Linked DNA regions of Homo sapiens. The protein of the gene in region 2 purifies or fractionates together with the protein of the main gene of each other region. This does not show direct contact. Each region holds a gene or a part of one and is shown on either strand. Other genes may lie near its edges.

Region 1 (3,647 bases), on a different chromosome or scaffold from region 2:
ATCCCTACAGCCTGAAAACTGTACATATTCTTTAACCCAGTAATTCCTTATTAAGGAATTTATCCTAAGAAAATAATAGAAACAAGTCCACAAGACATAAGTGCAAAGATGTTTATCCTACTTCTTAAAAGCAGAAAAGTGGAAGCAATCCAAAAATTCTAAACTCCAGTAACTACAACACCAAGAAGTTGATTTTTTAAAGTCATGAACCAAATCTATTACATGAAAAGGCTCACAAAGGAAAAGCAAATATATTTACTGAGTTTTTAAACAAAATTAAATTTACACACACCTACATTTACTTAAATGGAACTAATATTCAACCAGTACATTCTAATTCAGCCAATCTGCTAATTAAGTCCACTGTCTGGTTAGTGCCCTGTGTCCTACCAATCTCTAAACATTTTTACTATCTCCCTGTAACATACAAAGAAAAAGAGTAAAGGAATATATAACAAAGATGAAAAGTAGTTACTTACTGGTGAGGGGTTCACAGTGGTTTTCATTTTTTTCAAACCACTTATCAGTATGTCCTAAAATATTTATATGCTACATTTACGATTAAGTTATTGGAAGAAGCTTAGAAAGATCCTAAAATTCCATCCAGCCCAACTACAAATCATTACAGTATTAGTGAAATTATTAAGAAAAGGGAAATTGAAGTAATTAGACCAAAATTTATTTTCACAGTGGAATCTTTCATTCCAACTTCACCTAAAATCAGTCAGAACTTAATATTTTTCTACATGAATATATCACAACTAGAGTCCTAAGTTGTATCAAAATTAATTTTCCATTAAAAAAAAACTGGCTTTAACCATGAAGTTTCATTTAAAATAGGCAAAAAAAAAAATAAGACCAGTGTAAGCAGCATGAATTTAAAGGTCACAAAACTACAAATCCTCACCCAAATACATATTCACTAACTAACCTCTGTAATATTCTCTTTATAATTACTATTTTTCAATATTTACTATTTAAATAGTCACTTACTGATATGGTTTGACTCTGTGTCCCCACCCAAATCTCATCTCAAATTGTAATCCCCACAAGTTGAGGGAGGGAAGTGACTGGATTATGAGAACGGTTTCTTCCACACTGTTCTCATGATAGGGAGTGAATTCTCACAAGATCTGATGGTTTTACAAATGGTAGTTTTTCCTACACTCACCCACGTGGTCTCGTGCTGTCTCTCTCTCTCTCTCTGCCCCCCATAACCTGCCTGCTGCCATATAAGACGTGCCTGCTTCCCCTTCTGCCATGTTTGTAAGTTTCCTGAGGCCTCCTCAGCATTCAGAACTGTGAGTCATTTAAACCTCTTTCCTTTATAAATTACCCAATCTTGGGAGGTGCTTTATAGCAGTGTGAAAATGGACTAATACACTTACCTATGATGTCTTCTTATCTCTGCACATTCTACTGCCATCCCAAATATAACAGCACTTGCTGGTATAACTTTCCCATACTTTTCACAATTAGCACTTTCACCTTTGGTCTAAAAAAAATAACAATAAGAATTATGTTATCACATGTATGTAAAAATGTGTGTGCATAATGATAAGCTATGAAAATATAATTTAAAAAACCTAAAAAGACAATAAGTAAGGATAAAGTAAGTTAAAGGTTTTTTTTTCTTCCTTAAAAAATATTTTTGGGCTGGGCACTGTAGCTCACGCCTGTAATCCCAGCACTTTAGGAGGCCAAGGCAGGCGGATCACGAGGTCAGGAGATCAAGACCATCCTGGCTAACACGGTGAAACCCCATCTCTACTAAAAACATAAAAAATTAGCTGGGCGTGGTGGCACGCGCCTGTAGTCCCAGCTACTTGGGAGGCTGAGGCAGGAGAATCGCTTGAACCCAGGAGGCAGAGGCTGCAGTGAGCCGAGATCACGCCACTGCACTCCAGCCTGGGCTACAGAGCAAGACTCCATCTTTAAAAAAAAAAAAGTATTTTTGGCCAGGCCTGGCAGCTCACACCTGCAATTCCAGCACTTTGGAAAGCCAAGGAGAGAGGACCACTTGAGGCCAGGAGTTTGAGACCAGCCTAGGCAACATAGCAAGACCCTGTCTCTACAGAAAAAAAATGTTTTTTTTAATTAGCCAAGTGTGGTGACATTGCGAGGCTGAGGTGGGAGGGCCACTTGAGCCCGGGAGTTTGAGGCTGCAGTAAGCTAAAAAACGTGCCACTGTGCTCCTACCTGGGCAAGAGAGTGAGACCCCATCTCAAAAAAACAGAATAAGTATTTTCATTGCTATATATGTATGAATATATATATTTTTTTCTCACAATACAAATGCAAAGGATACAAGAAAAGAGGGAGGATGGGGGGGAAAGGACTGTAAGTCTGCATAGAAAAAAAGACTTGGGTATGACTTTGATCAAGAAATCAGTATCAATACCTACTTAAAAAATAAATTGCTTGGCCAGGAGCGTTCGCTCACACCTGCAATCCCAGCACTTTGGGAGACCAAGGCAGGTGGATCACTTAAGGCCAGGAGTTCAAGACCAGCCAGGCCAACATGGTGAAACCCTGTTGCTACTTCAAAAAAAAAAAACTGCTCTTTTCAACCTTTAACTAGCAATTTTAAATCCAAATAATTTTCTGTTAATATTGAATTTTTATTACATATTAAAATCCTTTCATTGATAACACATATCATATAAACCAAATCAATGATTTGTGGGCTACAATAGAGGATTTCAATGCAAAATATAATTTGGCAATTATAATAGTCCTGTCCAAGCCATAGCCTGGGTTCAACAGGTACCTGAAAACAGAACCAAACCAGCTATTACTATACTCCCTTCTGATAATTTGCCAAAATTCTAGGCAGTGAGGTCTGTAAGACTGAAAGTACCTCCGTTTTTCAACCCTACTCAAGAATTCCATAGTCAGTCCGTCCATAAAGTAATCTCAATTCCTATGAATTCTTCCCTGGAGTATTTTTGCCTGTATATCTCATTCAGGCACATAATTATACATTGAATCATGTTGTTAGTAAATGTTTTTATGTTGTTTTGTTTTGTTTTGTTTTGTTTTGTTTGAGACGGAGTTTCGCTCTTGTTGCCCAGGCTGGAGTGCAATGGCGTGACCTCAACTCACTGCAACCTCCACCTCCCGGGTTCAAGCGATTCTCCTGCCTCACCCTCCCAAGTAGCTGGGATTACAGGCATGCGCCACCACACCCGGCTAATTTTGTATTTTTAGTAGAGATGGGGTTTCTCCATGTTGGTAAGGCTGGTCTCGAACTCCCGACCTCAGGTGATCCACCCACCTTGGCCTCCCAAAGTGCTGGGATTACAGGCATGAGCCACTGCACCCGGCCAGTAAAAGTTTTTTGCATAGATTTCTTTCCAACCACACAGTATGTACACCTTGGCAATGGAAAATATATTTCATATTGTTTTGTAAATATACTAAGGATTCAATAAATCTCTGATGAAATAACGAATTCTTAATCAGTTGTAAGTATTTTCATACTGCTTACCTTTGGCTGTAAAAGTAAATGCTCCCATGCATGAATCAAACTCTCCACAATTCCTTCTCCAAATAAACCTGCATCGACAGTTTCTGTTACAACTAGGGACACTCTATAGAATGATTTTTTAAAGATATATGTAAGTAAAATATCATGCTATTATATA
Region 2 (3,747 bases):
CAGGGAGGATGGAGACAGCAGGGAGGGGAAGAGAGGGGAGGAGAGGATGAGACAGGGCCGGGCCACGCTCCGCCCCCGCCGCCCCACCCTCGCAGAGAGGAGGAGAGAGGCGCGTCTTCGGGCGCGGCTGCCCCCCTTCCGCGGAGCCTCAAGGTCAGGGGGGAGGGGCGGCGCTTCCCTCTCCCTCCTCCCCCACCCACCCTCCCCTCCCCCTCGGGTTCTCCCCACTTCAGCAGTTTTCCCTGATTATGCAACACACTGCAGACCCGCGGCGCACAAAGCCAGGACTGCCGGCCCAGGGACCCCGTCTGTCCCACCTCTCCGGGGTCCTGGCCGGCTCTCCCTCTGGCCTGCAGAACGTGCGCTCCATTTTGATGTTGACCCCCTCTGGCCTTCTGGTTCCTCCAACAAGCCCTGAAGACGTCTCCCTCCCCCAGTTCCCTCCGGCCTCACCAGCACCTCCCTCAGCTCTCCGGCCACCCACTGGACTTGACCCTGCCCTCCCTGCTCCTCCATGCACTCTGCTTCTCCTCCGAACTCCCTCTCACCATCCTGCACCCTTGGGTCCTACCCTGTTCAACATTGCCCTCTCCTGCTCACACCCTAACCCCTTTCAGGGCCTTCCCAAGCCCCTGAACTGTGCAGAGAGGGCCAGGGCGTCCACTTTCACAGGGACGAGCTGCAGGAGGGCAGCATCACTTATACCGGTAGCTGCAGTTGCTCCCCAGGCACAAGATGGATCTCATAACCTCAAAGTCACAAATGCACGCCCCTCGCGACGCTCTGCCTCCTTCAGGGCTACACCCAGTCTCCCAGCATGATCAGCCCTTGTGTGCCCTCACAGGGTGGGCTGCACACTGATGTGCCGAACTCACCACCTCCTCACTCACGCAGGGTCACACATGCAGTCACCCCGGACACACTCTCAAGTCACATGGTGCACAGCGGCCTCAGAGTCACATGGTCCCATGTAGTGGCACACAGGCAAGCACACACACACACAGGGTCACACACAAGCGCACACGGTCACATGGCCACACACAGTCACATGGACCCACACAGGCTCACACTCCTGCAGGTCACACTTGCTCTGCCACCCCATGCTGCTGGCACTCCTGTCCCCCTCTCCTGCATGCTGACAGTTGTCCTTGAACTTGGGCACCCTTACACAAAGAGCCTCCCCCTGCCTCCCACACCTTGGGCGTCCCTTGCTCACAGCCTCCTCCCTGCTTCCTCTCCCTGACCCAGGCTTCAGGGAAGAGACTGCTGCTGCCTCTGCTGGCCCTCTGCTCTGACAGGTGGGCGGCCCTGTTGGACCCCCTGCCTACTCCCTGGAGCTCCCTGCATTCCCCAGCTAACCCTAGCAGGTGTCCTGGTGCAGTCAAGGAAGAGGAGAGGGTGGCGAGGCGGCCCTGGTCTCTTGAGTGTAGGTCTGTGTGTGCCGGCATGGCTGGGTCCCGTCATGGCAGCGCCCATGCGGCTGTGTCTGTCCCAGCATGGGTCAGGATGTGGGTCCATGTGTGCGTTTGGGTACCTCAGTTCCTGATCCTCTTCCCCACCCTCTGTCCAACGTCGACACTCTCCCTGCCCAGCCTTGGCCTCTGTGTTCCCCTTCCTCCCCTCTACCGTCCAGGCTCCAGCCACAGACTCTTGCCGTTTCTGGTTCCCTTCAGTCTGTTTCCCCGGGCCCTGCCCTCCGCCCCCACACTCTGGCCCTCCACCGCTTCCAGCAAAGCCCCAGGCCCCGCGCCCTGGTCTCAGACCAGCGCTCACCTTTATCGTGCAGTGGCGCGCCGAGGTCGCTGCGGGCGCGTCCGTAGGCGCTCTCCAGGTCGGCCGAAGAGAACGCGTCAAGTTTGACCTTCTTGACCAGGAAGGACCTGGGCATGATTCCTGCGGGGCTCCGGCGCTGTGGGCCTGCGGAGCCGGGGCTTGGGGGGGCTGCGGCGGCAGGGCCCCGTCACCATCCGAGGAGCGGCGGAGGCAGCGCGGGTCCCCACTCTGGCCTTTGGATGCTGCCGCGCGAGTGGTGTCCTCTCTCCTTGCTGCCCTGCGTCTCCTCCGTTGCCCCTCCGGATCCCTCTTCTTCCTCCTTCCTTCAATCCTTCCTTCCTTCCTTCAATCCTTCCTTCCTTCTCTCCTCTTCTCTCCTCTCCTCTTCCTTCCTTCCCTCCTCTGGTCCCGGCTTCCCAGCCCGCAGTGCCGCCCCTGGACAGGCGGGGGAGGAGGCTGGGGGGGCGGAGAGGGGGGGAGCGGCTCCGTCCCGGGCCTGGAGGCTGCGAGTGGGTGCAGGGCTGGCCCGGCTCGGTGGCCCCCTTCCCCTCCCCCCCCCCGCCGCCGCGGCGGAGCCTCAGTCAGCGGCCCCCCATGCCCCCGGGGGCGGCGGCGCCGGGCCCGGAGAACGCGGTGGCAGCGGCAGCGCCGGCAGCTTCAGCACCGCGGCCAGCGCCGGCCTGGGCAGCACCGCGGCCAGCGCCCGGGCGCGCTCAACCGGCGCGGGCGGAGAGGGGCGGTCCGCGGGGGTTTGGCCGCCGGGCAGGGGTCCTCGGCGGGGGTCTCTGGGAGGCTTGCTTTATTGTTCTGCAGCCGGAGCGAGCGGCAGTGGCGACGGCGGCGGCGGCGGCGGCGGCGGCGGCGGGCGGGGGGCGGGGGTCCTGGGGGGAGGGGTGCGCAGGGAGGGCGGGCCGAGGGAGGGAGGGAGGGAGGGACAGGGGCTCCGGGGGCGGGGCTCGGCGCTCGGACTGCTCCTGGGCCCGGCCTCCAGAGCCCGCAGCCGCCTCTGCCTGCGGCCCGGCCCAGCCTCTGGCTTTTAAAGCCCAGGAGCTGGGGGAGGGGGAGGGAGGTGGGGGAGAGGCCGGCGGAAATGGCTGCGCTGGGCCGAGCCCCGGCCTGGGTCTCCTGGGAGGGGTCCCGGGGATGCCTCAGCCTGCGCGAGTGGGGAATTCCCCCGCGCGGCTCGGGGAACCGCGGCCCGGCAGCCAGCAGCATTGTCGGGCGTGTGGGGAGAAATGGAGCCAGGCCTGGGACCCAAGCGCCCCGGACTCGGGGTCTTGTGGGGAGGAACGTAGGGAGGACCCCAGTCCCGCCTGCCTCGCTCGGGGCCTGGGGCGCGGGATCTGCGGGGGCGGGCGGGGGAGGCGGGAGCCGAAGGAGCAAGTGCTGAGGCAGCGAAAGCGCAGCGCGCGCCCTGTGCCGCAGTGGCTCCCGCCGCTCGGTCACCCCGGCTGACCCCGTGCACGCTGGAGGGGCCTACCCGCCCCCGCCTCTCTCCCCCCGGGCGGGTGTGCGGCGCAGCGGCGTCGCTGCGAGCCGGGTGTGGAGCTGGAGAGGGGCTGCCACGACCCTGCTCCAGAAATTCTGCTGCTTTGGGGGTTTTCCGCCCTTCCGCGCGGCTGCAGCTCCCCACGGCAGCCCCGCAACCAGGCGGATAACCCTTTCCTCGGCCGCCCGCCCAGCGTTTGCAGCCCCCATGACGTCAGGCTCAGCGGCCAATGGCGGGGCGCCGGGCGCGGGGGCTCCGGGGCTCCGGGCCGCACAATGGCCGCGCGCGGGTGCCTCTGTCCCCAATTAGGGCCTGGCGCCGCCATTGTCCCCTCACCCGCCCCGCCCGGTGGTCCGGGTCTACGGGCTCCGAGCGCGCTCCCACGCGCCCCGCTGCCGCTGGGGACCAAGGTCGCGGGGGCGGCCCCGGGGAGCGTCCGGGCGCGGGTGTGCCGGGAGCGCGTGCGATACTGGAGCGCGCTCGTT

The links. The genes of interacting proteins can lie anywhere in the genome.
Region 1: the proteins of SCRT1 (region 2) and PRMT9 purify together in Homo sapiens (affinity purification with mass spectrometry; one large-scale study listed by BioGRID and IntAct). This does not show direct contact.

What each region holds. Positions count from the first base shown.
Region 1 is NC_000004.12:147,667,151-147,670,797, forward strand, and holds part of PRMT9 (protein arginine N-methyltransferase 9), read right to left. Parts: intron 3,594-3,647; coding exon 3,491-3,593; intron 1,496-3,490; coding exon 1,389-1,495; intron 1-1,388. UniProt on the Homo sapiens protein: Arginine methyltransferase that can both catalyze the formation of omega-N monomethylarginine (MMA) and symmetrical dimethylarginine (sDMA). Specifically mediates the symmetrical dimethylation of SF3B2.
Region 2 is NC_000008.11:144,334,282-144,338,028, forward strand, and holds the start of SCRT1 (transcriptional repressor scratch 1), read right to left. Parts: upstream 2,202-3,747; 5' UTR 1,889-2,201; coding exon 1,774-1,888; intron 911-1,773; exon of another isoform or gene 706-910; intron 1-705. UniProt on the Homo sapiens protein: Transcriptional repressor that binds E-box motif CAGGTG. Can modulate the action of basic helix-loop-helix (bHLH) transcription factors, critical for neuronal differentiation.